2 separate regions of the Homo sapiens genome follow, and region 2 is linked to region 1. Evidence: fine-mapped expression QTL. A gene starts in region 1. The other region holds a variant in brackets. All regions are shown on one strand. Distances are from middle to middle.

The links. PIP is the estimated chance that this variant, and not a neighbour inherited with it, causes the effect.
Region 2: its variant is fine-mapped to the expression of MAP2K6 in whole blood (TOPMed, PIP above 0.99).

What each region holds. Positions count from the first base shown.
Region 1 is chr17:69,407,291-69,422,558 of GRCh38, forward strand. MAP2K6 (mitogen-activated protein kinase kinase 6) reads left to right here and starts at 7,407. Exons shown (of 12, transcript NM_002758.4): 1 at 7,407-7,710. The coding sequence starts at 7,695.
Region 2 is chr17:69,494,007-69,509,274 of GRCh38, forward strand. MAP2K6 (mitogen-activated protein kinase kinase 6) reads left to right here. Exons shown (of 12, transcript NM_002758.4): 2 at 11,774-11,840. Among named protein-coding and RNA genes, the nearest start is that of MAP2K6-AS1, 16 kb to the left of the region's middle. RefSeq lists enhancers at 9,957-10,006, 10,077-10,136, 12,331-12,832. The variant G/T (reference allele first, on the strand shown) is at 8,136.

The DNA.
Region 1 (15,268 bases):
TATACATTTTTTAATTCAATGAGAATGTCATCCAATAAGGACTCTAGATAGTTCGTTGGCATTTCCATAAGATATATTAGGCACTGTTAATTATAAAGATTTGTTGACAGTAATTTGAAAATCTAGAATCTTAATACGAGTTTCAGGAAAGTATTAGCCAAAATGTTTTTAATGAGATAATTAAATAAAAATTCTTAGGCCGGGTGTGGTGGCTCACGCATGTAATCCAGCACTTTGGGAGGCCGAGGCGGGTGGATCATGAGGTCAAGAGATCTGGACCATCCTGGTCAATATGGTGAAACACTGTATCTACTAAAAATACAAAAAAATTAGCTGGGTGTGATGGCACGCACATGTAGTCCCAGCTACTCGGGAGGCTGAGGCAGGAGAATCGCTTGAACCCAGGAGGCAGAGGTTGCAGTGAGCTGAGATCACACTACTGCACTCCAGCCTGGCGACAGAGCAAGACTCCATCTCAAAAAAAAAAAAAAAAGAAATTCTTCTTCTTAGCAAATCTTTATGCTGGTGTTTCTTTAACTTTTAACAAAGAAGGCTAAGATAAGCTAACAGATAATCAACCTATTTTAGATGAATTCATTCAGTAGATAATAAATCCATGCAAACATCAGATAAACAAATATTGGTTGAGCACATATTATATGCATGACAAATGCCAGACCTGGGGCTACATGATGTTGATGAAACTGTCCCTGCTTAAGCTTAGAGTCAAGGGCCAAATACAGACAAGCAAGGTCTTCCCAAAGGAGTAGGTTAGGAAGGTGCAGGGAACACACCATTTTGTAGAAAAGGTAAAATTTGTAGTTAAGTAATGTTACTGAGAGATAATATCAGATATATGGCGCATAAGAGCTAATAGATGCCACCAGAATTTAAAAGGGTGGATACTCTTTAATGGGACAGAGGGATGTGATCAAGGACATCTTCATGGAAGAGATGAGCTAGAACCTCAAATGAAGAACAGAGTTTAGAAAACAGAGATGGCAGTGGAGGCCAGAAAAAGGCAAAGTCATAGAACAAAGTCATTGGACAGTATGCACTAAGGTATAGAAGTGGTGCCATGTCAATTCATGGCTCATTGGGATAAGTAATCCTGTTTGGACTGGATTGCTTAAACAAAGGAATCCTATGGTGGATGAATGAGACATAAGGCTAAACAGCTATAGCCAGCCATATTGTAAGTTGAATCACACTGAGATTTCTAGAATTTCTGCTGGTAATCATAGTTCATTGTGACACTTTAGTGCAGTAAAAAAAAAACAAAACTGTACTTAAAAATATTTTACCATCACAACTTGCCATCCAGTCCCTTAAATGAATCCTCCACCTGCTTCTCCCCCATATACTTCACTATATATAACACACCTGTATATGCAATGATTTTCTAGGGTCTGGAAAAGTAGATATTTAGACTTGAGTTCTTAGCTTGAACTTTGGTAGCTTCCTTTCTCTTGTTTCTGACATCTAGTAGACACTGTTGGAAAACATTCATAAATGTCACGTGCAGATTTGTATTACTACTTTGAAGGCAGTATTTCAAATGGTAATATAAGTATTTCTTGTCTCATCTTTTTTTTTTTTTTTTTTTGAGACGGAGTCTCTCTCTGTCACCCAGGCTGGAGTGCAGTGGCCCAATCTTGGCTCACTGCAAGCTCTGCCTCCCGGGTTCATGCCATTCTCCTGCCTCAGCCTCCTGAGTAGCTGGGACTACAGGAGCCCACCACCATGCCTGGCTAATTTTTCTGTATTTTCAGTAGAGACAGAGTTTCACCGTGTTAGTCAGTATGGTCTTGATCTTCTGACCTCATGATCTGCCGGCCTCGGCCTCCCGAAGTGCTGGGATTACAGGCGTGAGCCACCACGCCTGGCCTGTCTCATCTCTTAAGAGACGTTGTTATGAGAGTCATCAGTGGCTTGCCAAAGCAAGGGATCAGGAAGATGTTTAGCCAGTGTATAAAATAGAATGTGTGATCACAATTCCCTTCTCTCTTTAAATCATTGTGGTTTTAATCAAACAGGTGAGTTGGGTTTAGAGACATGGAATATTAAAACTGGAAGAGGCCTTAGTCTGAGTCTCCTTATTTTATAGTGGAACTAAAAGAGGCCCAGAAAGGTAAAATGACTTGCCTTAGGAGACACAGCTAACTTTTTCTACAGCCGGAATTAGAATCCAGATCTCTTAGATTCTAGTGTTTTTCCTATGTCAAAATATCCCATTACTAAATCTCATTAGCTTTAAATTAACTTAAAAGTAGAGCATTTAGGCCAGACCAGGTGGTTCATGCCTGTAATCCCAGCACTTTGGGAGGCTGAGGCGGGCGGATCACCTGAGGTCAGAAGTTCGAGACTAGCCTGGCCAGCATGTGAAACCCCGTCTGTACTAAAAATACAAAATAAGCTGGGCATGGTGGTGCACACCTATAATCCCAACTATTCGGGAGGCTGAGGCAGCAGAATTACTTGAACTTGGGATGCGGAGGTTGCAGTGAGCTGAGACTGCACCACTGCACTCCAGCCTGGGCAAAAAGAGTGAAGCTCCATCTCAAAAAAGAAAAAAGAAGAGCATCTAGTAACTTTCCATGGTATGTAGCAGGGTTTCTCAAACTCACACTATTGACATCTGGACCAGATAATTCTTTGTTGTGGGGCTTTCTGTATGCTATAGTATGATTACCAGTATCCCTGTATACCAATATACCCATTAGATCCCAGTATCACACTCTCTCCCCCTATTGTGATAACCCAAAATATTTCCAGACTTGCCAAACATCTCTTGGGAGGCAAGATTACCCCCAGTTGAGAAACACTGATATTCAGCTATTAAGTCACAAGTACTGTTCCTGGCCTGTGGAATATATGTGACACCTCCCCGACCTCCTCCTCCCTGCATATGCCTCTAGAATAATTCCTTCAGATGCCAGTCTGACCTAACCTAAAGGCCTCCCTCCAAGGATCTCACACCTCGAACCTGACAGCACAAGGCTCTTTCCAGGCGAGGTGCTCAGGTTTCCCTGCCAGTGGTAACTACCTTGTTGGAATCCAGGGTGATGTGTTACAGAGGGTGGCTGAGAAAGTCCAAAGGACGTGCCCGCTGAGTCTTCAAGGACAAGTCAGAAGGAACTAGGAAGAAAATGGAAAAGTCTTGCTAGACAGAGAGCATGTACCAGGCTGAGGGCGGCGGCTCACGCCTGCAATCCCAGCACTTTGCGAGGCTGAGGGGGGTGGATCACTTGAGGTCAGGAGTTAAAGACCAGCCTGGCCAACATGGTGAAACCCTTTCTCTACTAAAAATACAAAAATTAGCTGGATGTGGTGGTGCACACCTGTAATCCCAGCTACTCAGGAGGTTGAGGCAGGAGAATTGCTTGAACCTGGGAGGTGGAGGTTGCAGTGAGCAAAGATCATGCCATTGCAACAGAGCAAGACTGTCTCAAAAAAAAAAAAAAAAAAAAAGAGAGAGAGAGCGAGCATGAGAGCATGTACCTAATGGCAAGGAGTGAGAAAAGCTGCCTTCTCCTGACTCTAATGTCAACATACGATGAGAAATGAAGCTGGAGATAAAGCAGGGCCCAGGTCTTGAGGAACCAATTATACCATGCCATGGAGTTTGGAATAGATCCTGAGTATATTTAGAAACTGAGAGGAGAGTGCATCTGACTTGCATTTTAGAAAGATCTGAAGTACAGAAAATTACAAAGATTGGTGCCTGTAATCCCAGCACTTTTGGAGGCTGAGGCAGAAGGATTGCTTGAAGCCAGGACTTTGAGACCAGCCTGGGCAACGCAGCAACTCTGTCTCTACAATAAAAAATAACAAAAATTAGCTGGGCATGGTAGCTCACGCTTGCAGTCCCAGCTACTTGGGAGACTGAGGTGGGAGGATCTCTTGAGCCCAGGAGTTTGAGGCTACAGTGACCTATATGATCAGGCCACTGCACTCCAGCTTGGAAGACAAAGCAAGACCCTTGTCCCTAAAAACAAACAAACAAACATAGCTGGGCTTGGTGGCATGCACCTATAATCCCTGCTACTCTGGAGGTTGAGGTGGGAGAATCTGGGAGGTGGAGGCTGCAGTGAGCTGAGATCATGACACTGCACTCCAGGCTGGGCGACAGAGTGAGACTCTGTCTCAAAAAATTAAAAAAAAAAATAAAAACAAACAAACAATTAAAAAGATGGGGGAGGCCAGGCGCGGTGGTTCACGTCTGTAATCCCAACACTTTGCAAAGCCAAGGTGGGTGGATCACTTGGGGTCAGGAGTTTGAGACCCCCTGACCAACACGGTGAAACACTGTCTCTATTACAAATGCAAAAATTAGCTGGGTGTTGTGGTGAGCTCCTGTAACATCAGCCATTCGGGAGGCTAAGGCAGGAGAATCGCTTGAACCTGAGGGGTGGAGGTTGCAGGGAGCCGAGATTGCGCCACTGCACTACAGCCTGGGTGACAGAGCGAGGACTCATCTCAAAAAAAAAAAAAAAAAAAAAAAAAAAAAAGATGGGGGATTTAAAACAGAAGCATGGGCCACCTGAAGATGAACACTTGATGTGCATATAAAAGGAGACACCTGCCAGAATTCACTCCTGCCTTCTTACGCCACAATGGGGAGGATTCTCCTCCTAGTACCAATGATACCACGAAGACTGGCAGGAAGAAGAGCACAGGTACCTCCTCTTCCACCACCCACGTATGTGGGAGAGGAAACTTTTGAACACCAAGGCAGGAAGAAGAACTTTTTCTTCTGGGAACCAAGACTTCACAGAGAGGTTGAGTTCCCTGTCATCCCAATTTCCTACTTGAAATTCAGGATACATTTTTCCCAGAAAGAAATATGATACAAAATTTTGCTATTTTTAAACGGATGATTCAGCCAATTTATGGATGAGAGGTGTTTTGTGTATGCATGTGTGCTTGTGTGTGTATATTAGCTGCTGAACATATTGTTGGTGCTATGGGAAAATGAATTGCAGATTGACTTTCAAGCTACAATCCATTTGCCAGCTGTGGACTCCGCACGCCTATGCAGAGAAAGTAAGAGCAGTAATGACAGTGGCAAAATGCACCAGACAAGTTGTGATTAGAACTCTTCCATAAAGAAGGGAGTCTGGGGCTACTTAAGAGCAATGCAGCTGACCACATAAAATGCAAATTGAAGCAAGCTCTAGGTGGCTGTTCAGGCCCTGCCTGGGCTAAGCCAGTTTACAGAAAGCTCCAGCAGCTATCCCAGGGCCTGGCTCCATCAGTGTTTGGGAAAGTGAACTAGATTTTCACACGTGTCTCCTGGTTAAATGAGACTTAGGAAACCATGCTGGTTTGAGGGGGTGCTGAGCTTGTGTGTATACGATAGGAGGGAAGGGACAACATGGATTAGCCTAGAAGGACAATAAAAGAGTTAGAAAGTCCTTGCACCTGTGTTCACAGACCAGCAATGCCTTCCTCTTAGGGGCAGAAGCTAATATGGAGATTAGATTGCCTTCACTAATTGTCAAGAATGTCAGTAAAGGGGACCAACTTAAGTAAATTAATGTTAGTCTCACAACCTATTGCATATTTAAGATTTGATTTGCTGGTTTGCAGCTGAAATAAGACGGCTTCCTTCCCTCTAATGCATCCCTTATGCAGATGGTCCTGGCTTCCAGCATCCTAAATACAATTCCAATAGTTTTCATTAGTAATCATCAAATCTAGCTGAATCTTCTTTCAAAGTGCCTCTTTTTGCCTTTCACTACTGACCTAACCTATCTCTAGCCTCTCCCAGTTCCAACCCACCTTGATTGCTGAGGGCAAATTTACTTTCTTAAAACAATGCTTGGATTAAGTTACGCCCCTTTGCAAGACCCTTTCACCTCCCCGCAAGTACCTGCAGAATAAAGTCCAAACCTCTAGCCCACCTTTTAAGGCCCTGTGGAGTCCTCACCTGTAAATCTCCCCCGCCCTCACCACTCCTGCACACAAGGCAACAAGGTCTCCTTGGCAGCTTCTGAGTAAGGTTGTCCTTATTTCTGCCACAGTGCTTTGTCCACACCTCCTTGAATTCCTCAATTCCTCCCTCTGTCTTAAAAGAACATTTCTGAGTCTGTCTGCTCCATGAAGTATAAGTCCGAGCTCATTTTTGCCCATGCCCTGCTCACTCCTCTCCATTCCTTGCAGTGAATTGTGCTAAGCATCTCTGGCTTCCTTGTGAAAAAGGTGATGCCGTTCTCCATCAGGGTGCTGTGTACCCACTATGTGTGAGCGGTACAGAATGAATGAACATCCCAGGGCCCTAGAAAGGCGCCTGGCACATCCTGGACACTCAACAAGTATCTTTTAATTTTAATGAATAAATTCAAGATATTCGACTGTATTCATTTTCCACCCACTTTCCCCCTAGGCCAGGGACTCTCCTCCCAGGTGAGAAAAAATCATCTAGATACCTTAATTTTGATAAAGTTAGCGTTGATGTATAAAAAGCAGAACTTCCTCTGTAACCCTGTGAGAAATGAGAAGCCTCCAATCTTCTTCCCCACACCTACCCCCTACTGAGTTTCGGGTTCCTTGGAAATAACTGACCTGGATTGTTTCTGACAAAATAAAACTTTGCATCTTCTCCACAGAGCAAAGGTAACCTTACCTCCAGCCAACCCAATCATCCATACATTTTTCTTACTAGAAAAAATGTTTTTAAAAATGGAGGTGTGGCCGGGCGCGGTGGCTCACGCCTGTAATCCCAGCACTTTGGGAGGCCGAGGTGGGCGGATCATAAGGTCAGGAGTTCGAGACCAGCCTGGCTAAATGTTGACACCCCGTCTCTACTAAAAATTAGCCGGGCGTGGTGGCGCATACCTGTAATCCCAGCTACTTGGGAGGCTAAGGCAGGAGAATTGCTTGAACCCGGGAGGCGGAGGTTGCAGTGAGCAGAGATCGCGCCACTGCACTCCAGCCTGGGCGACAGAGCGAGACTCCCTCTCGGGAAAAAAACAACAACAACAACAACAAAAAAACCCCCAAACAAACAAAAAACGGAGGTGTGAGGGTAAAACGTCTACAGGCAAGAACAGCACAACAGGTGCTGAGCTGCAAAATCAACACACTAAACTCCCAAACAGACCTTCTCGACAAGCCAAAAGCTCTTTAGCTAACCTAATATTCTTTAGCTGTTGTTTCAGAGGCTTTTCGAGAACAAAACTGCCGCCCCGTCTTGGCCTTGCCGCTTTTCACCCATCACTCTACTGAGTGTGTGTCTGACTTGTTTATCTGGACGCAATCTTTGTCGCACCCAGTTATCTCGCTCAGCGACCGGGGCGACCACGTTTCCTTAAATCAGAGCCCCGTGGACTCCGCCGGAGAACTACATTACCCAGCGGCCTTCGCGCCCTTCGCAGGAAGGACGTCTGCGCACTAAGATACTCAGTTCCAAGTTTGGAGCTTTTAGCTGCCAGCCCTGGCCCATCATGTAGCTGCAGCACAGCCTTCCCTAACGTTGCAACTGGGGGAAAAATCACTTTCCAGTCTGTTTTGCAAGGTGTGCATTTCCATCTTGATTCCCTGAAAGTCCATCTGCTGCATCGGTCAAGAGAAACTCCACTTGCATGAAGATTGCACGCCTGCAGCTTGCATCTTTGTTGCAAAACTAGCTACAGAAGAGAAGCAAGGCAAAGTCTTTTGTGCTCCCCTCCCCCATCAAAGGAAAGGGGAAAATGTCTCAGTCGAAAGGTAAGAGGCTGTTTGCATTAGTTGCAAAAATGCAAAGGGTTGTGCATGCATTTATGAATGCATGGATGCAATTTTCGCCTGGCGAGTGCATTTTTAAGTTTGAGGTTTTCCACAGCTCAGTTGCATTTCCTGTTTAGTATGTGTCTTTTTTTGCAGACACAGAGAGTTCCTGTAAGGCAGGGCTTGCAGTTCAGCTGTGCATTGACGTTATTTGCATTCTTCTGCTAGGATTACTGAGCTCTTTTTGCCTTTTGCACAGTCAGGAGAGACAGAGCAGGTTGGTAGCGTCTAAATGTGCAAGGCTTTATATAATTGTAAAATTCTTTACTATGCACAGATATTGTAAGTAATTTTGTATGCAACAGGAATAGAAACTTTTAAAAACTCTATAGGTGAAGATGAAAGGTAAAACTTGAGTTAAACTACTAGGAAATTAATGTAATCTTATATTCTTTGGGGGAAATAGACCGTTGCGGTGCCAGTATTTAGCTAAATTTCCATTGATATCGCCTTGAACATTAGGTAACTTTTGATTTTTAAAGGAAGTAAAGGTGAAGGGTGAATAACAGCATATCACAAAAAAGCAGACGAGTCTTGCTCTTCTGAGATTTTGCACTTTACACCAATTGCTTATTGGCTCGCAAAATTTAGAAGCAGCAGTGAAGACCTAATGTTTTATGTCTGCCCATTTGGGGGATGCTTTGCATCTTGGGGGAAAATATTGGGGGTAAAACTGTACTTTTAAGCATTACAGTAGTGTGAAGGGACTGCACTGTTTCATTGACAAGCATAATGAAATATTTTAAGTGTGTAACTGCGTGTATTTAGTCAGCTGTAATAGGTTGGAAGTTCACGTTATGGTTGTTTTCTTTATGTTCTTTTATTTTCTTTTCTTAATTTTTGTTTTTAAACACAGTTGTATTTTGCAGGCTTAATGTCACCCTGGGAAGGGGATTTAAAAAATTCCTGATATGACATCAAAGAGCAGACTAGGTGCTGTCAGGTGCCCCTGGGACCCCAAGTCACTTGTTTCAGAACAATTGTTTCTTTACCATAGAGAAAGCATATGCCATATGAGAAGTATGGGATGATGAAGAGAGGTGTTAGATACTATTGAATTAGGCTACCCGGGGCACTCTTTGAGTAAGACATGGTGAAATTAAAGGGTCTAACAAGCTTTTTGCTACTTTTTTGGGAGGGAGTGTGGGGAGTTGTTGCACCGCTTTTTAATTCTACCTGATGGGAGTCATATATCTCAGCAGCCCAAGAAGGAAGTAGTAATCTCAAGCATTCAAAGTAGCACTCTGCTTTTCTTTGAGTATTAGGGGAGAATGGAAATCTGAAAAGTTAAGAGTGCTGAAGAACCTAGGAATTGACATATCAGGTGGAGATGTTCCTCAAGTGGGGAAAACCTAAAAATCTCCTTATTGAGTAGAGAAATAATAGTTCAGAAGAGGCAGTCCATGCTTTGATGTATTAAAGAGATGGCATTTAGTTACTTTGTATTTGGTAAACATTCGCTCATTCATTCAATTCAGTTTAATATATGTGTAATATATTGTGATATGCATGTATATACATATGTATGTGTGTATATATATGCATGTATATGTATGTATTGTGTGTGTATGTGTGCACATGATTTAGGGACACACAAAAATATTTAAAATGAAGTTTTTCCTTCGGGTTGGTGAAAACAAGAATGTAAGGAAATCATTATAATACAAGATAATAGGACAGGTATTGAAGAGAAATGGTGCTATTGGAGTTTAAAAATGGAAGTGATTTATCTATTTGGGGGATAGTCAGGAAGGTTTATGAAGAGGGTGGTGTTTACTGTGATCTTATCTTTGGACTTTAGGGTCTAAACTAAATCAGGCTCCTTTTTGCATATTTTTGGGCTCACTATGAACGTGGCTCCCTCTTAGTAGAGCCAGTTTTTGAGTTGAGAAGCCAAAGGAGATATTAGCACTGCACTCTTCCCTATGGATGTGTTTACAATGGATCAGGTACTGGTGGTCCTTCAAATCAATTCCCATTTACCCAGATGAGTTTTCTTAATTGGATTCTGCTTGGAAAGTACATCTGGAATGAACATGGGGTTCTTGTCCGAAAGGAAAATTATTGGTAGAAAGAAGTGGGTGATCATTTTAGAAATGGCAAAAGAGCCAGCCGCCTTGGCCTGGACTTTAAATGTGGAATTGGCCTTATTCAGCTACGCTATTCTCAAATGGCCAAAATACTTTTTGCAGTACCAAACTTCTTTTTTAATATTCTAACCCAAGAAATGGGAGGAAAAGTGAAAAGTGGATACAATCTCATAGTATTGAAGAATTTAACAATATGTTCAATTCAAGGACCTTTACGAACTTTCTAGATCACTATAATTCGGTTTAACAGACCTCTAATTTAAGGCACAGCAGAGGCAAAGGAATTACAGACTCTCTGGAAGCTGGAAGGACTGGGTTACTGCTCTACAGCCTTACCAACAGTGAGATTCCGAGAAAGAATTTCTTAAAAAGAAATTTTGTTTTCCACAGTTGTAACTTTAGGTGGTATGCTTTTCAGCTTGTTTATATTAGCTGTCTGGGGTTGAGTTGACATTTTTCAAATATTAAAGCAGTAGAATGCCTTTTGAGGAAATCTGAAATGTAAGTTAACAGGAAGGGCACCCAGAAAGTGCAGGAATTCCTGCACACTACAGGAAGACAAGCTACAGGAAAAATGTGTCATCTACACTACCCGGGAGAGAAAAACTATTGTTATCAGCCATAATGATCTCCGGAGGGAGGGAGAGAAAGAGGGAGGTAGGGAGATCTGGCATCCCCCAGTTCACCTGAAAATACACAAAAAGTTTGACCCTGTTAAAATACACTTTTCTCACTTCTCCTCCTATTCACCTTTAAAAAATATTAGTTTATTTTAGTTTTAGAGAGCAATAAGTAAATCATGTAAGAAATGCCTATGAGGCACAATTCAGAAGCATATAGCAGAGTGGTAGGAAAGGTCTTAACTCTACTGGGGTTCTTTGCTTCTGTAATTCATTCCACCCTTGGGAAATGAAATGTGTAAATTTCTTGTTCTCTATAAATTCCTTTGTTAGGTTGTACCAGACGGACTTGTCATGCTTAGCCTGTAATCTGAGCCAGTATGTTTTATAACCCCGTACATCTCAGGACACAAAATCAGAATAGGTAGCTTGGGTTTCCTGAGCTTGCTTTGTATTAGCATTGCATTCAGTTCTTTAGAGCATGCGGCCTGTTAACTGTAGGGGGCTTCAGGGGTCTCTGGTTGGTAAATTTAATGTTGGAGAAAAGAGTTGAGATTCTCTTGTCTTTGTTTTTCAGATTAGTGTTACTTTAATGACTCCCCAGTATTTTAAAATCTGAAAGATCTACAAGGAATATTTTTAAAACTTAAAAGAAATTTCATAAATAACCCTTGTTCATTATAGAAACATTTCATAGAAAAGGAAAAATAAGAATGACTAGTTACTGCAGTCTACACTTTGGCATTTATTCTCTTGGACTTTTTTTTTCTATCTATGTGTATGAAGCATCCAAAATGTGTGTAAAACTAAGTCTATTTCGTTCCCTCTTGTTTCACTTACCAATATATGGCAAAATATTCCCAAGTTTATATATTTCTACATTCATAGTATCCTCTTCCATTGTATTTATTTAAATAGAATCTTAATGTTTATTAACTTTCACTATTGTGAATATTTCCGTGATGATCATACCAGTTCCTACATTATCATGCATACTATGCCCTTAGATTAAATTCCAGGGAGCAAAACCACAGGCTTTGAATGTCCAGTTCTTCTTCACTCTCCATTCTCTTTTCTTCCTTCTGAAAATAGCTTTTTATTATTGCAAAAAAAAAATGACATATGCTAATCAAAAAATTCAAACCAAAGATAAATTCACAATAAGAATATAAAACTCACTCAAAGTCATACCACCCAGAGCTAATTACTGTTAGTTTTTTGGGTACTATCTCCATATTTGTATGTACATGTTATTTTACACACTATATATTGTATTTTGTAACTTGCTTTTTTATACTCTACCATATATCTTGGATATCTTTCTGTAGTAGTACACATAAGGTTACCTATTTTTTAACAACCGTGAATTTTAATTTGTAAGAATGTAGCCATTTACTTAATGTCATATTGAGTTTTCAAACAGTTTCCATTTTTTTGCACAGCTATACACAGTACTGTAAGGAATACCTGGAACATACATCTTTATACATTTGCCCAATTATTTCTTTAGGATGATTCCTAGAGGTGGAAGTCCTGGGTCAAAGGGCATGTATAGATATATTGCTAAATTGCCCTTCATAGAGGTAACACTAATTCTCATTTCTACCAATAATATTTAGACGTGCCCATTCTGTCCTTTCAAGCATAATGGTACATATTGCCAAGTAAATTGCTCTTCAGGAAGATGGTACCTTTCTTCATCCTGGGTATAACAATTTGAAAAAATCTTTGGCAGTTTGATGAAAGCTATTAATATTCTACTCTAATATTATTAGTGATAAGGCAGTTGCATTTTTCAGTTTTTTTGACATTTGTGTTTCATGTGCCCAAATTTCTTTTTTTCTCATGAAATATATCCTTAAAATTTTAATTTGGGTGGCCAGGCATGGTGGCTCATGCCTGTAACCCCACTTTGGGAGGCCGAGGCAAGTGGATCACCTGAGGTCAGGAGTTCAAGACCAGCCTGGCCAACATAGTGAAACCCTGCCTCCACTAAAAATACAAAAATTAGTCAGGCGTGGTGGTGCACACCTGTAATCCCAGCTTCTTGGGAGAATCGCTTGAACCTGGGAGGTGGAGGTTGCAATGAGCAGAGATTGTGCCACTGCACTGTAGCCTGGGTGACAGAGCCAGACTTCATCTCAAAAAAAAAAAAAAATTAATTAATTTGGGGATCAAATTATTTTCAAAGTTAGCCAGAAAATAGCAATATTGTAGAGGTTAGGTAATCCTGGATTGATAGTTGGGTTCTGTGTATCTAAACAATTTAATTCCTTGATGAGTTCTAATTTTAATTTTAACCTAATGTCTTAAGCTGCTATCACATATTTTATAAACTCATTTTATTTATATAGTCTATAGCTATCCAGACCTATATGAAAATAATAAGAAAAATGTAGTGATCTGATTAAATTCCAGTCTGAGAAATAGCTTACTTTTGGGCATTCCTGCATTTTCAGTTATCTTTTCAGGCAAAATTAGTTTTTCTTTAGGTTTATAAATAATTCTTACATAGCACCTGGTTGTGTTATATGCATTGTTGCAGAGAAATTTAATCTAATTTTTTTTAGCTTCCTGTGCAATGCCTAATCACAAAAGGTGGTTGACTTAAATTTCCTACATTTGTTAAAATAATTAAGTCTAGAATCTTTAAGATTCTTGTTAAGAATCAATTTTAATGACCTCACAAGTCATATAAGTCAATCAGATTTAACATATCCTTAACATAGCCTTAATAAATGCGCCTATTTATGCATCCTGATATTAAGTGATAGAATTTAGAGCTATGAAAGTTTTATAGTCCAATCACTTCATTTTACACATAAGCTAACTGAGGCCTTGGAAGTGAGTGACTTTCCTGAAGACAGTAGAGTGGAGTCACAGGGAGAAGTCAGATCTACAGATTCTCTGTCCGTAAGTTCTTTTCACTAAACCACACGTGAACACTAATAATCCACATTTATAAAATTTTTTTTTCTTCAGAATCTTTAGTATATTTCACATTTTTAGCTTTGCTTGTTTTTGTTGGGAGCAGTCTGGCAAGGGGGAGCTGATGGTATAATGAGCAGGGGTTATTTTTCTGTGTCCAAGAAATGGTGACATGTGAATCATGGTGGTGGGGTTTCTTACCAGTTCTCTGCCAAAGGATATTTTGCAAATGCTCTCATTTTGATTCCCAGTGCCTACATAGTACAGCTGCAAGTTTTAACCACTGTAATGGTTGTTTGCCTTTTATGGACTGTCTTGTTTGAAAGCCCTTGCTGGGTAACTAAACCTTTTCTTATATATCTTTACATCTCTGACTCTTATAGCATTGTCCTTATAAATAATAGGTGCTCAAAAAATGTCTGACAATGAAAGTATTTTTCATCAGTAGGGATAAGCTCTCATTTGCTCCTAAGTTTTATGAAAGATTTCGGGTAATTAAATTACAATGCAATTTTCTTCTTGTGCTTCTTCTTTGTTTGCACTGATATTCCCATTATGTATTTGCTTAATTATTTGGAAGTTGCAAGAACAGCATGAAAAGCAACTTATAATGGCTGGCGAAGTGTCATTTCTCCTACCTAAGCCTTCTGAACAGATTTAAAGGTTGCACAATTCTCTGCTAACTTTCTTTTTAAAAAATATGAGAAGATGAATTGTCCGAAGAATCCCATCCAATAGAATTGAAGTGATTTCTGCATCCTGTGCTGGTTTTAGGAGCTGGTTTTTAAGTCTATGAGGCTTCTGAAGGATTGTCAGAGACAATCCTTTTTTTGTTGTTGTTTTTTGTTTTTTTTTTTTGAGACAGAGTCTCGCTCTGTCACCCAGGCTGGAGTGCAGTGGTGCGATCTCAGCTTACTGCAACCTCCGCCTCCTGGGTTCACGCCATTCTCCTGCCTCAGCCTCCGGAGTAGCTGGGATTACAGGTGCCTGCCGCCACCATGCCCGGCTAATTTTTTTTGTATTTTTAGTAGAGATGGGATTTCACCGTGTTAGCCAGGATGGTCTCGATCTCCTGACCTCGTGATCCACCCGCCTCGGCCTCCCAAAGTGCTGGGATTACAGGTGTGAGCCACCACGCCCGGCCCAGAGACAGTGTTTTTAACAGCTGGCTGCCCTCTAACAAAACAGGGAACTTCGCAAGGATCACCTCCCAGTGAAATGATTCTTCACTTCCTCCTTGACCACCTCCACTGCCTCTGCCCAGCCCCTTCCTCCCTGGCTTGTACCCCACTCTGTCTCCTTTGATGGTCTTCCTGAGTTGGCCCATGCGGTTCAGTATGTAGTCCATAATCTCCCTCTTTCTGAGTTGAGGAGGATATTCAGGTTATAATCCCCATACAATGAAGTCTATCAGAAATCATCGTAATTTTTTTTTTTTTTTTTTTTTTTTTGAGATGGGGTCTTGCTCTGTCACCCAGACTGGAGTGCAGTGGTGCAACCTCAGCTCACTGAAACCTCTGATTCCCAGTTTCAAGCAATTCTCCTGCCTCAGCCTCCCGAGTAGCTGGGATTACAGGTGCCTGCCACCATACCAGGCTAATTTTTGTATTTTTAGTAGAGACAGGGATTCATCATGTTGGCCAGGCTGGTCTCAAACTCCTGACCTCAGGTGATCCACCCACCTCGGCCTCCCGAAGCACTGGGATTACAGGTATGAGCCACCACGCCTGGCCAAATCATCGTAATTTAGTCAACTCCAGTCTGAGTTGAAGCATTAAATAAGCATTTGCAGCATCCCTGTCATCTGTTTTACTTTCTGGTCTGTACATCCCTTCTTAAGTCAGATTCTTGAGATTAGTC
Region 2 (15,268 bases), 87 kb after region 1:
CTGCAAAGTAGTCTTGCCAAACAATCTGATCAAGTTGAATCTGATCAATTTCTAACCAACAGAGGGATGTGTGAGTCAATAACAAGGGATAAGAGCAGCAGAATCCAGTGGAAAAAACTACAGGACACATGGCCTGCATTTCTTCAACAAAATAATTGCATGAAGTTGCAGGAGGAGAGGAAAGGGAGAGGCAAAAAGAAATGGAGGGAGGTCAGGTGCAGTGGCTCACGCCTGTAATCCCAGCATGTTGGGAGGCCAAGGCGGGCAGATCACCTGAGGCCGAGAGTTTGTGACCAGCCTGGCCAACACGGTAAAACCTCATCTCTACTAAAAATACAAAAATTAGCTGGGCATGGTGGCACATGCCTGTAATCTCAGCTACTTGGGAGGCTGGGGCATGAAAATCGCTTGTACCCAGGAGGCAGAGGTTGCTGTGAGCCAAGGTCGTGCCACTGCACTCCAGCCTGGGTGACAAAGTGAGACTCTGTCTTTAAAAAAAAAAAGAAAGGAAAAAACAAAATGAATGGAGAGCCCCTGGATTAAAAGGGAAATAAGACCCTGTACTGATAGCATTCTAGGGGAGGAGTTGCAGATGAAGAACGTTCCTTTGTTTCTTTATTACCCCCTTAGTCTTCAAGCAGCTGGTTGAATTAAAGTTACTATCTTGGAGTTTCCTTTGGTTAAAAGGGAGGTGATCAGAGTGCTATTAAAATTGTGGGCCGGGCGTGGTGGCTCATGCCTGTAATCCCAGCACTTTGGGAGGCTGGGGCGGGTGGATCACCTGAGGTCAGGAATTCGAGACCAGCCTGGCCAACATGGCGAAACCCTGTTTCTACTAAAAATACAAAATTAGCCGGGCATGGTGGCGCACTTCTGTAATCCCAGCTACTCGGGAGGCTGAGATAGGAGCATCGCTTGAACCTGGGAGGTGGAGGTTGCCGTGAGCCGAGATCGCGACATTGCACTCCAGCCTGGGCAACAAGAGCGAAACTCTGTCTAGAAAAAAAACCAAAAACCAAAAAACAAAACAAAACAAAAACCCAAAATTGTGGTCTTGGACCAGAGGAAAAAAAGAATCCATTACTTCCACATAAAAAAAAAAAAAAAAACAACAAATTCACCCCTCTTATTCGCTATGCCACTCTTTTAACTATTAAAACAGAATTTTCTGTGATTCTGTTACTATTTAAGAACATCTTTATATATTGGTAAATTTCGTTTTATTTTTTCTTTTATTTATTTTTTTTTTGAGCTGGAGTCTCGCTCTTGTCGCCCAAGCTGGAGTGCAGTGGCGAGACTTCGGCTCACTGCCTCCACCTTCCAGGTTCAAGTGATTCCCCTGCCTCAGCCTCCCAAGTAGCTGGGACTACAGGCGCCCACCAACACGCCCAGCTAATTGTTGTATTTTTAATAGAGACAGGGTTTCACCATGTTGGCCAGGGTGGTCTCAAACTCCAGACCTCAGGTGATCCACTCGCCTCAGCCTCCCAAAGTGCTGGAATTACAGGCTTGAGCTACTGCGCCTGGCTATTTTGGTAAATTTCAAACATATTCAAAAGTGGACTGTATTATAACTGCCAGGTATCTAGCACTCAGCTTTGACAATGACCAGCTCATGGCCAATCCTATTTTATCTGTATCTCTATCCCCCACTCTGCCTTTTTTTTTGAAGCAAATTCTAGAATAATATCATTTCACTCGTAAACATTTCAGTATTATCTCTAAAAAAAAAATACTTATTTTTTAAAACCTAACCAAAACCCAGTGTGTATTTTGAAAAGCTCGAGCACGCCACTAAATTTCTTTGCAACCCATTGCCATTTTTTATTTTAAAGTGATGTTTTTAACACCCTTATGACTACATTTCCTTGCGATCAATGCTAATGAGTGAAGCAGCCCATAAATGAGGAAGGAGATGAACCGAGACAGTAGGAGTTCCCTACTGCCTGCCTCCTGCCTTTTCCCTGGGCCTAGAACATAACTCAGGGCATTGGCTGTGATTTGCTTTTAGGTTCTTTTAAGAACATCTTAGTCAACACCAAATTGTTAACATGACATAAAAGGTCTACTAGGACTTTTTTTTTTTTAGCTTTAATCACATGAAGCTGTAATAAAACCCATTTGAGCACTTTTATTCTCTTAAAATGGGGCCATTTCCCAATTAGCGGATGGACAGGCTGGCTCATTCTTCTTTGACAGGAACGTAATTCTTTGTGTCCTTCACCGATTCTTCGAAATGTTCTTAGCTTGGCTGGCTGCCTTCCCTTCTTTTTTTTTTTTTTTGAGAGGGAGTCTTGCTCTGTCTCCCAGGCTGGAGTGCAGTGGTGCGATCTCGGCTCACTGCAACCTCTGCCTCCCGGGTTCCAGCGATTCTCCCGCCTCAGCCTCCAGAGTAGCTGGGATTACAAGCGTGTGCCCCACACCCGGCTAATTTTTTGTACTTTTAGTAGAGATGGGGTTCCAGCGATTCTCCCGCCTCAGCCTCCGGAGTAGCTGGGATTACAGGCGTGTGCCCCACGCCCGGCTAATTTTTTGTATTTTTAGTAGAGATGGGGTTTCACCACGTTGGCCAGGCTGGTCTCGAACTCCTGACCTAAAGTGATCCGCCCACCTTGGCCTCCCAAAGTGCTGGGATTACAGGCATAAGGCACCGCACCTGGCCACCTTCTTTCATTCTTCTTGTTTCCCTGTCTGTCTCAGGCAACTTTCTACCTCTCTGTTTGTCATTCCCAGATCTACTCATTTCCTCCTGTCCCTCTCTTAAGCTCCATTTGCCTGCTTGAATTCTGCCATGCGTCCCGTCCCTGCAGCATCTTATACTTAATACATCTGACTTGGAACTCATGATCTGCCCTTTCCCCACTGGCCACCCCCACTGACCTGACTTTCCTCTTTCACTTAACTTCATTTGGGGGTGGAAAAGCCAGATGACGAGTATCATTTTTATTACCACTACTATTACTAGTAGCAATACTTCTACTATTACTATTACTACTTCCAGTACTACTACTATGCTTCTGTTCCTTTGTTCCTCTTATGCAGTAAGTGACCAGAGCCTATAGATTTTGCCTCTGCAAAATTCAAGCAGCTTATTTGTGAGCCAGATTGCTGTGGTCTCTACCTCTTATTTTTGGGTCTAGTGCTTAAACTCTGTACATAGGTAAGAAGACATGGGCCCTGACTTCAAAGGGCTTGCATTTTTAGTGGAAGACATGGATGAACAGATGGGTTCACTTAATCAGCATAGGAAGGTTCAGGGTACTGTGGCAACACAGAGGAAAGGTATTTATTGCATTGGGGACTTTCATGGAAGACTTCCTGGAGAAAAACATACTTGAGCTGAGTGTCGCAGTTGACTGGGGAAAACAGGTAATAACAACATTCTGAGGAAAATAAGAGCAAAGACCTGGAGGCATAAAACATCAAGGCATGAGAGTATGTGGGTTTATGCATGAGTGTGTGTGTAGCACAGTTTCAAAACATCCTGATATTATTAGATCAGTTCATCTTGTTACATCTTTTTTTTTTTCTGAAGCATGGATGTGGCATGATGTTCCTCTACTGAAAAACATACATGACTTCTCTTTTTACATCTGAAATTTAAAATATATTTGTTACAGTATTTTGATCTCTGACTCCAACTTCCTCCTCCAGGTTTCTCTCTCCACCACTTTTCAGTTTGTCCAGAGTAGAAAACTCAGAATTCTTTGAATATACCACAGTGCTTCTCCTTACAAAGATATTTCATCCTCATTTTACTTTGAATCCCCTTATTGTCTCTCCAAGTCTTGATTGTCAAAATCCCACCCATGGTCTTTTTAAACTTTGATTTTGGAAATATTTAAATATATAAAGAAGACATACAGTATAACAAACCCTCAGGTACCCTTAAATCCTACCAAAATCAAAGGGCCACTTCAAATACCACTTCGTATGTGAGACCATTTCTCAGTGTTGCTTGTCTTGCTTCTTCTCTCCTGCTTTCAGGGTGCAATGCTTGTATTGCACATCACACATACCCGCTGTTATTATGGAGTTGGGTTTTCATATCTCCTGATGCTTCGATGGCAGAATTGCATCTTAATAAGTTTTGACCCTTGCAATGTGTACCCTGGGGAATGATTGACAATTTCAGCTCAAAGATAGAGATAACACAGTGAGGAGCTAGCTTGGAATTTAATTCTTACTAATCAGAAAGAACTGGTGGGTTGTGGGGGATGTGACAAGAGCCTTGGAGGAAAGTGACGTTGGCAACATAAAGTGAGAAATGGTAAAACAAGACAAACAAACAAACAAACAAACACAAAACAACTTTACATAGACATGTGGTAGACAAGGGCTACTTAACTGTGGCTGATTTCTCAGACACTTGTGAAACTTAAAAAAATATATGGATCCTGAAGCCTCACTCTATCAACTTAGCTGGTAACTACTGTCCCCAGTAGCTGAGAGACCTGGACAAAAGGGCATCAGCAGGGGACCCACCTGCATGGGTCCTTTTGGGGCAGTTTCACCCATAGGGATAGGATTGCAAGTGTGGCTTCAGTGACACAACTACAATGTGAGATTTTAAGACTTTTTAGCACTTAGAGACTCTGTATGGCACCCAGCACGCCTGGAAGCCACACACACACACCTGGAAGCCACACACACACACACACACACACACACACACACACGTGCACGCAGAGAGAGAGAGAAGGGACCACTGAGCCAATGTCTTTATTGGGTACAGGGCGTTATCCAGTTTCCTGCAGGGAGCTTTAATTGCTGGGTTTAAAGCAAGCAGGCACTAGTTCTAGGAGGTCACAGCGTGACTGAGAGGTGGTCACCTTACGTTTGTGGGCAAATGTCTGCATGGTCTGTTTAAAGGGAGTGGCAGGAAAGTAGGGAGGCCAGCCTGCTAGGCAGGAGAGATGTCTCTAAGTTTCATGTCTGGCCACTGGTTTGGAGCCAATCTGGTGGAGTGTGGTATTAGACACCGTGTTAAGAGTGACTGAGCCCTGCTTCTGATGTGAGATAGTTTAACTTAGGTTTAAAAATGGATACTGAGGCAATGTAAAATTATAAGCACTCACTACACTCAGTCCCAGAAATCCTGAGTCTATAGACCTGGAGAAGTTCCCATAGTCAGTGGGCACAAAGAGAGGTAGATTCAAGATTGATGAGATGTTTGAAAAATGTAATTCTAGTGTAAATAACACGAAAGAGGGAGAATGGAGCACGGAATTTGAAGAAATAAGATGCCATCCAGGGAACATTCTGCTTAACTCATATTTTAAAAATGTAAGCGTAAACATGGAAGGGACAAAAGGAAGTATTTATTGAGCACCTATATTATGCTACACCCTGCTAGGCTTCTTCACACACACTGTGTCAATCGAGTCTCTTAATGACCTGCGGAGATTGTACATCATCTCCAGTTTGCAGGTGTGGAAACTCAGTTTAAGATAAGAAACTTTCTCAACATTACGTCACTAAGTGGGACAGCTGGGATTTGAAATGATTCTTATTGATGCAGAGGTTTGTGCAATTTCCATTCCATTCTTGGTTGTTCATTTTGTTTGTTTGTTTTTTGAAGAGCTCTGTACAAATGTTCAAAACAGTTGAGAAAAGAATAACAAACATTCAGTCAACAAATATTTATGATGTGCAGGTGCTGGGCAAAATCATTGGCCATCATGGAACTTATATTCTAGTGGAGAAAGGTAGATAAACAAGTAATAAATAAATGCAGAAGTAAATAAATAAATACAAAAATAAAATAATTCTAGATTGTGAGAAAAGGTTTGCGGGAAATGAGTGGAAGATGGTCGTGGAGATCTATTGTAGAGAGAGTGGACATTTTTCAACTAAAATATCAAAGTTTCAGGGAAGCTGCTTTGAGCTCATATTGTGTTGCAGGCTGAGTGTAAGGTGCCAGAATGTGAAAGCAGGAATGTGTGGATAGTAATCCTTAGATTGTGTTCAGGAAGCTCTGGGAAGGTTCTATGAGGGAGGTTTTGAATTTGGAAGGTTGAGTTCTTGTCTGCAAGACAGCTAGAGCCCTCCAGGTAGAAGGAACAGTATGAGCAAAGGTAAGGTCTTAGGAGATTCATTCTGACTCTGAAATCAAACTGACTGCAGGTTTTAAAATGAGCTTTTCAGCTGGGCACAGTGGCTCACACCTGTAATCCCAGTAACAGCACTTTGGGAGGCTAAGGCGGGCGGATAACCTGAGGTCAGAAGTTTGAGATTAGCCTGGTCAACATGGCGAAACCCCATCTCTACTAAAAATACAAAAATTAGGCGGGTGGGGTGGCACGTGCCTGTATTCCCAGTCGCAGCTACTCGGGAGGCTGAGGGCCATGAGAATTGCTTGAACGTGGGAAGCAGAGGTTTCGGTGAGCCTAGATAGGACCACTGCACTCCAGCCTGGGTGACAAAGTGAGACTCTGTCTCAAAAAAAAAAAAAAAAAAAAAAAAAAAGGCCGGCCATGGTGGCTCACGCCTATAATCCCAGCACTTTGGGAGGCTGAGGCAGGTGGATCACGAGGTCAGGAGTTCAAGACCAGCCTGACCAACATGGTGAAACCCCATCTGTACTAAAAAATACAACAATTAGTTGGGCGTGATGGCGGGCACCTGTAATCCCAGCTACTCAGGAGGCTGAGGCAGGAGAATCACACAAAGCCGGGAGGCGGAGGTTGCAGTGAGCTGACATTGTGCCACTGTACTCCAGGCTGGGTGACAGAGCAAGATTCCATCTCAAAAAAAAAAGAAAAAAAAAAAGAGGTTTTCAGCTTTTCTTCTCTAAACTTTCTGTAATTCCAGAGAGATTTGTCTTCAGTGTTTGGAATCTCAGTGGTATATAAGAGCCAGTGGTTTTGGAAGATTGGAGGATGGCAGAGTCCCTGTTCACTTTTACATTGCTGTTGCAAAGCCAGCTTTCTTCCTGCATGCCTCTTCCCCTGCCCTGCTTCGTTCGTTGCTTTGCATATGATGATTGCAATTTAATAACACTGAATGATACTTCACTGCTGGTTTTATTGCCAACTACCCTTGGAACGTAAGCCTAGATGCAAGTAGTAAGGAGAGGGCAGCCAAGGCCTCTAGATTGCCAGTTACTTGGCTGGAAATCCCATTCATATTGGGAAACAGATTTTTAAAATAAATTTGGCACTGGAAACACTGCCATCCTTTTGTGAAGCTGTGTCAATAATCATAAACTCTCATAGTCGTGCCCCCAACCCTCGGCCAAGCTAACAAATATTTAGGCATCAGCATATCTTCACGATGCCACCTTCTGTTGACCGCGTGGGCTTCTCATGCTGTTTGGGTTGGCAGTGGAACATAATCTTCTGTTTTATGTAATGAGGAACATCAGAGGAGTGCTTTGTGCTTACCCTCTCAGAGTGTGTGCAAGACCTCTCGTGTACCCCATCATTTTCGGTGCAGTCAAAGCTAGCGAACATTTCTGTGGCCTGGTAAATATTTTCTAACTATTGGCAAGGCTTTTTAAATTTTTTTTTCCAGTGCCATTTTGCTCCAGGCCAGGATTATAATGACCCAGCTTTGCTTTGGTTTCAGATGAATTTTGCAAATATATGTGTGTGGTGGGATTACACTATTTTCAGAGAACACAGTCATGCGGGTAACAGGGTCTGATGCAATATAGTGCTGCATATGCCCAATCAGGCCGACGAGGCTTACCCTTTGCAGACTGTGCCAATAAGCAGTCGAGGCTTGTTGCGATCTGCAGAAATCTACAGAATTCTCTGTTTCCGAGAAGGCTTGTTGCTAGCATATGACATCATAGAAAGCCTTTTTTTTTTTCTGACATTTTTTCTGCTTTGCTTTAGAATATCAAAGGCAAAGACTGTTGAACATAGTTGGCCACTTAGCTTTATTATTCATAGTGCTCCCTCCCATGTTTTTTTTTTTTTTTTTTTAACAGTGTTCAATGTTAGCGTCAGGTGTTGGCTGCCTTCCTGGGGGAACAGATTGCTGTGAAGTAAACACAGCTGGAAACTGACCACATATTGTTTTTCTTTCTTTTAAGAAATCAAAGAGGCATTTATAGAAAAGCTGCAGAACATGGTACTGTCCAGATTTATAGATTTATTCCTCCAAGTCTGGTTAATGATTAATGTCAC[G/T]CCTGGGTGTCCACATAGACCCACTTCCCTTCTCCCTTCCTGAAGCTGCAATTTCCTCGGAACAATGAGCTTGCAGAGGTTTGCTGCAATCCGAACTTGAGGAGGGGGTGGAGTCTGTTCAGTTCTGTTTCTCCTTGCCGAAGTGTGGTCTTTGGAGCTAAGTGAAGAATGACTTCTGTTAGGTTTTCCTCTGCTGGTCTTCCTTGCAGCCTCGAAAACCTCACCAGAGTCGCCTCTGCTGGTCTCTTACTGTGCTGCTCTGTCAGAGATGGGCAAGTAAGCGAACTGCAGAGTGTTGCTGTGTGTGCTTGTGATTTGTATTTTATTTGATGTAAACGTGAAGGCAGAGTATTTTCTAACACTGTAATTCAACTAGGTTTTGTGTCTCCTGGATCTATTTTTTTTTCTTGTTGTTCTGAGGAGCTGATATACTTGGAAATATTAGGTTTAAGATATGCAGATGTCCAACTTATATACATAGTCAAGGGTTTAGAGTCTGGAGACAGGAGGCTGGCAATTTCAACTAGGAGGCAGTAAATTCAGGGTAAGAATGATGTTGATGTGGGGGGCTGTGGGGGTGGCTGGGTGTAACAGTGATCTGGGGAGAGAATCAAAGGCCTTCTCCTCCCACTTGGAAGACTTTACTATTATTTTGGTCTTTTATTCCTTTGGTCTCTGTGCTAAAAACTTTCTCTCTTTTTTACTGTTTCTTTGTATAGATGTTTTGGTGATTTAAGTTATGGTGTAATAATTAATTGCTGTTAAGAATTGCTACTAATTACTTGCTATATTAAAGTTTTCCAAAGGGGTTTTCTCAATAAATAGCTATTTCTCTTTACATCTATCTTGTAAGAACTGAGTTAGAGGTAAAGAAGAGAAAGATGTAGGAATTTAAGAGTAACTTCTGCTTTTGGTTTGCTTAAATGACAACTGGAGACCAGTTTTCATAGGCAAAATATATGTTACTTTAGTTTTTGTTTTCGTTGAGAGAACTGTAGGGTCGCCTTTTGGGATTACCTGAATTATCTGTCACCTGCACTGGAATTTGTATGTAGTTATCTGTATAGTTATCTAAACAAGTTGAATCCGTCATTCATTCCTCACTGAAGAATCTCATCGAAAGTAACATTCCCTGTCTGTTTGGCTGAGGTGCATGGATGGGAATTGTTGGAATTAGGCCATATATCTATTTGGATTCTCATAACTGGGTCCAGCACCTAGCATAGTTCCTGGTACATAGGAAAGCTCTATGCGATGTCAATAACTGACTAATTTAGTAACATCCTTAACAGCTGTTTGAGTTCCAAGAGCAGGAAAGTGAATGGTGAGTTTTGAACCTTATAAAATACATAAGTAAACCCAAATGAGGAGAGAATTGAGAAAGCCTCTTATTCTGAAGGTGGTCCTAAAAGGCTTTCTCTAGGCTGATTACTGCGAAGCATATTTTTTCCTGGCTATATACAACTTGGCAGAATTGATCTGATTTTGGATTCTGAAGGAATTGAAAAATTTCATTATACATTATAGTGGGCTATAATGATGTGGCCAGTTCTCTTCATTAATTTTTTAAATGACTTTAAAAAAAATGAGACAGTACTGATTGTTTCCCTAAATGAATCTAATTAACAGCTACTTAAGGTATCTTAATGTTTTTTCATATATGTTATCTGCTTTGATTCTCATATCAGTCCAGTGAGGTGAGTATGGTTGTTACTTCCTCATTTTACAATTGAGAAAACTGAGAGTCAGATGAAAAGTGATTCTAGAAGTTGCGTGATGCGTGGAAGAACCAGATGTCAGCTGGGTATTTTAAAACTCAAAATCCCGGGTACGTCTCACCTGCCCCCTCTCCAGTCATCTCTAAACGTCTTCTATTGCAGGATAGTAGAAAGAACTCCCACCTGGGTGTCAGGAGACCTGGATTCTGATTCTGACTGGGTCATTGCTGACCTCTGTGATGTGGAGCAAGTCACTGAAGTCTTTGGATGTTATTTTTCTGCAAGGAGGTTATTTTAATTGGTTTAAGTTTCTTTGCAGCTTCAGGATCTATCCAGGGCCATATCCAGGGCTTGTGTTATCTCTGAGTGCTCATCTGCAATGTAGAGAAGAGGTGGGAAAGGAGGTAGGATTCTTTTTTTTTCTTTTTTTTTTTGAGACAGAGTCTTGCACTGTCGCCCAGGCTGGAGTGCAGTGGTGTGATCTCAGCTCACTGCAAGCTCCGCCTCCCAGGTTCACGCCATTCTCCTGCCTCAGCCTCCCCTGTAGCTGGGACTACAGGTGCCTGCCACCATGCCCGGCTAATTTATTGTATTTTTAGTAGAGACAGGATTTCACCGTGTCGGCCAGGATGGTCTCCATCTCCTGACCTCGTGATTCGCCCGTCTCGGCCTCCCAAAGTGCTGGGACTACAGGCATGAGCCACCGCGCCTGGGCAGAAGGTAGCATTCTTTCCAGCCATTCTATGCAGCTCTCCCTTGGTTTCCCCTGCCAAGTGCAAAGAGACACAGGATCTCCATGCATGAGGAAAACCCCAGGCCCTTGTTTGCTCTGTTCTGCTTCCTGAGCTGGCATTTCTCAGTCTGTTCTTTTTTACTCATCAACAAAAGTATTCGAGCCAAATTCTCTTGTAATTTCAGCCCAGGTGTGATCAACATCAAGTTACCTTTCCATTTGGCCCAAGAAGAAGTTATAACTTCCTTGCATAAGCTCATCTGTTATCTTAATCCTTTCTGGAACAGGGAAAATGTAAATAAGTATTACTCTATCCCTCTCTTAAGTTTTTCAAATTACAGCAGGTGGTTGGGAAAAGGGGAGGGCAGAACAGTGGAAAAGCATTTTTTATTCTACTTCCATTGCTAACTTTGTAGTAGTTAACAGATCGATTTAGAAAATAGTGGGTTACTAAGATAAGGGTGACCACCCTTTACTAACACTAAAAAGAAAAAAAAAAAGCTATAACCAAGTGTCTGCCATCACCATTATAGTGTAAAAGAAAAAAAAAACAAAAACAAAAAACAAGGCCAGGCATGGTGGCTCATGCCTGTAATCCCAGCACTTTGGGAGACCAAGGTCAGCGGATCACCTGAGGTCAGGAGTTCGAGACCAGCCTGGCCAACAGGGAGAAACCCCCATCTCTACTAAAAATATAAAAATTAGCCGGGCATGGTGGTGCATGCCTGTAATCCCAGCTCCTCAGGAGGCTGAGGTAGGAGAATCGCTTGAATCCAGGAGGCAGAAGTTGCAGTGGGCTGAGATTGTGCCACTGTACTCCAGCCTGGGTGACAGAGTGAGACTCTGTCTCAAAAAAAAAAAAAAAAAAAAAAGTTGCAATGACAAATTCTCAGTGGGGAGAAAGGGCAGATCTTCCTAGGAAAAGAGAGTTGGCATTCTCATCCTGATGTTTGCCCCCTGGACTAATGAAAAACCTCATTCATGACCACAGTCTGTATTTGAGAAGCTCTGTCCTACCTGGTGCTTGGGTTCTTAACACTCACAGACTTCCTGGGTAGGAAGTGGCGCTTTGAATGGAGACATGAGAGCTGCCTGTGCAGGTCAGCTCTTTCCTTTGCCGCAGTCTCTTTCTCTGCTATCTTGCTATGATTTAGTCCTTAACTTTTTCCTTTTGTCTTTCCCCATAGGCAAGAAGCGAAACCCTGGCCTTAAAATTCCAAAAGAAGCATTTGAACAACCTCAGACCAGTTCCACGTAAGTTGACAAGACCATCATCTGAATCCAAATCCTTGTGCTTTCAGATTCCTCCTGGGGGTTTATTTTTGGACTGCTGAGCAATGCCTTGACTTTAGAAGAGCCCTTTAAGGGGGAAGCCATTTGCTCACTGTTCTGAGACCTGAAATAGTCATCTTATCAGTCAGTTACGTTGAATGGGTAGTTTTGAACTCAGTGTCTTAAGTTATTGGTTGAGTAGGAAGTGAATGTCACATATATTTGGCAGATGGGGCTCTATGTAAGGCCAGAAAGGCCCCTGGATGTGAACTTCCTTGCCTTTTCCCTGTAGATTGGAGCAAACAGGCAAATCCCTGTGAAAGCCACTACTATAAAACTTGGGTTGAGATGGAAAGATGGTATTTGGTGAGGACCCACATCCTGACACTTAAATTCTGTCCCATATAAACAGAAGGAAGAATGAGGTAAAGGAACACTTTTTTTTTATTAGCTGAGGTTTTGGCCCAAATCCCTAAGTCAGCTCAAGTCCTAGTGAAGGACATCGTGTAAATGACATCCTCTCTGTGAGGATGTCTCCTTCTTGTTTTTTTTTTTTTTATTTTTATTTTTTATCTGTCTCTGTGTGGTGGGAACGGTACTTCCTGTCCAGCTGGAGGTACAACCACCTACCAAGGCATCTGCATGAGAGGAATGGAAATTCCAAGGAAACTCACAATAGAGGTGTTAGAGAGACAGGGCAAGGGCAAAGAGAGGGCATCCTAATGGAAAAGTGAGTTGGTAAGGCTTTTGTTCATGTCTACAAAAGTGCCTCCCTTTGTGATGGGTTTTGATCTTAGCTATGATCTGCTATCAGGAAGTGCACCCCTAGTGTTGGAATGTGTTCTTAAATGGGATCATGTCTGCTGTAAGACTTTGTTAAAGCCACTGGTCCTTGCATTGCGTGAAGCAGTATACAGACACTTTCCACTGGAGAATTTTTAAGGACAAAGTAGAGTTGAGGGCTACTCTTCAGGGTTCTGGACTGTAGCTCAAGAGTCTAAACTCAAGATAGAATGTTCCTTTCATTAGAATCTGCAGGAGGAAGATCCGTCTTCCCATACTTGCTGTCAAGATTGTTTTCTTTTTCTCTTTTTTTTTTCTTTTTTTTTCGGTCTCTCTGAGCAATTTCTTTTTCTCGTAGACCTGTGAACTGTGTAATTACTATTGTTTCCTCTCTGACTGGTTTCTCAAGAGCTTACAGTCAAATATGTGGCCTACTTTTACTACCTGTATAGGAATTTATGGGATATACTTTTAAAACTTTTTATTTTGAAATAATTGTAGATTAACAGGAGGTTGCAAAGAAACGTACAGGGAAGTCCCATAGATCCCTTTCCCCAGGCCATGCCAAACTCCCCCGCCATCCCAAGTTAACATCTTACACAACTATAATACATTATCAAGATCAAGAATGTGGCAGTAGTGCAAATCATAGAACTTAATTTTGCCAGCTATGCAAGTATTCCTTTGTGTGTGTGTGTGTGTGTGTGTGCACGTGTAGCTCTATAAAGTTTATCACATTGTGTAAGTCTTGCATAAGTACTATTATAATCAAGATACTTCACTACAGCAACATTACAAGACTCTTTTATGCTCCCCTCTTATAATCAAACCCACCTCTTCTCCCCATCTCCGTCCTTAATCCCCAGCAACCGCTAATCTGTTCTCCTTTGCCATTTTGTTATTTCATGATTGTTATATAAACAAAATCATGCATCTCTTTTTGAGATTTTTTTTTGTTCAATGTAATTTTATTGAGGTTCATGTAAATAATTGCATGTATTGATAGTTTGTTCCATTTTATTGCTAAGTACCCATCCATGGTATGGTTATACCACAGTTGGTTCAACACCTTAGCCTTTGAAGGAGATATGGGTAGTTTTCCATTTTTGGCTATTATGAATAAAGCTGTTATGAGCATTTATGCATAAGTTCCTGCATGAGAATAGGTCTTCATTTCTCTGGGGTGTAAGCCCAATAGTGCAATTGCTGGGTTATATGGTAAGCCCATCTTTAGTTTTGAAAGAACTGCTGAACTATTGGCCAGAGTAATTGTACCATTTTATGTTCTCAGCAATAATGTCCGAATAATCTAGTTTTTCTGGATCTCTGCCAGCAATTGGTATTATCAGTGTTTTTCATTTTAGCTATTCTGATGTGTAGTGATATATATGTAGTTTTTTTTTTTTTTTTTTTTTTTTTTTGAGACGGAGTTTCGCTCTTGTTGCCCAGGCTGCAGTGCAATGGCGTGATCTCGGCTCACTGCAACCTCTGCCCCCTGGTTTCAGGTGATTCTCCTGCCTCAGCTTCCCCAGTAGCTGGGATTATAGGCGCCTGCCACCATGCCCAGCTGATTTTTTTTTTTTCTTTTTTTGGTAGAGACGGGGTTTCACCATATTGGCCAGGCTGGTCTGCTGGTCTCGAACTCCTGATCTTAGATGATCCACCTGCCTTGGCCTCCCAAAGTGCTGGGATTATAGGCGTGAGCCACTGTGCCCAGCCTATATGTAGTTTTAATTTACAATTTCTCTAGTGGCTAATAATGTAGAATATGTTTTTAGGTGTTTATTTTCCATCTATATATTTTTGGTGAAATGTCTGTGCATATCTTTTGCCCATTGTCTAATTAGATACTTTTTATTGTTTACTTTTGAGAGTTATTTGTATATTCTGGACACGAGGACTTTGTCCGATATATATGTGATATGAAAATATTTTTCCCAGTTTGTAATTTGTCTTTTTATGCTTTTAGCAGGGTCTTTCACAGAGCAAAAGTTTGTTCAACTTATCAATTATTACTTTTACAGATCATGCTTTTGATAATAAGTCTAAGAACCCTTTGCCTAGTCCTAGATCTGTCTAGAAGTTTTGTAGTTTTGCATTTTGCATTTAAGCCCATGGTCCATTTTGAGTTAATTTTTGTTCAAGGTATGAGTTTAGGTTGAGCTTTATTTTTTTGGCCAGTGGGTTACCAATTATTCTAGCACCATTTGTTGAAAAGGCTATCCCTCCTCCATTGAATTGCTTCTGCTCCTTTGTCAATACCAATTGGGCATATTTGTTTGAAGTTATTTCCGCATTGTTTATTCTGTTCCACTGATTTATTTGTCTCTCCCTCTGCCAGTATGACATTGTCTTGATTACCACAGCTGTAGAGTAAGTCATAACAGGGAAACATGATTCCTCTCACTCTGTTCTCTTTCAGAACTATGTTGACTATTCTAAAGGCCTTTCTCTTTTCATATAAGTTTTAGAATAAGCTTATCTATGTCCACAGAGAAACTTACTGAGATTTTAGTAGGAATTGTGTTTAAGCTATAGATCAATTTAGGGCAAATTGACATTTTTACTACATTGGTTCTTCCAATCTGCAAACATGGTATATTTCTTCAACTTTAAAAATTTTATTT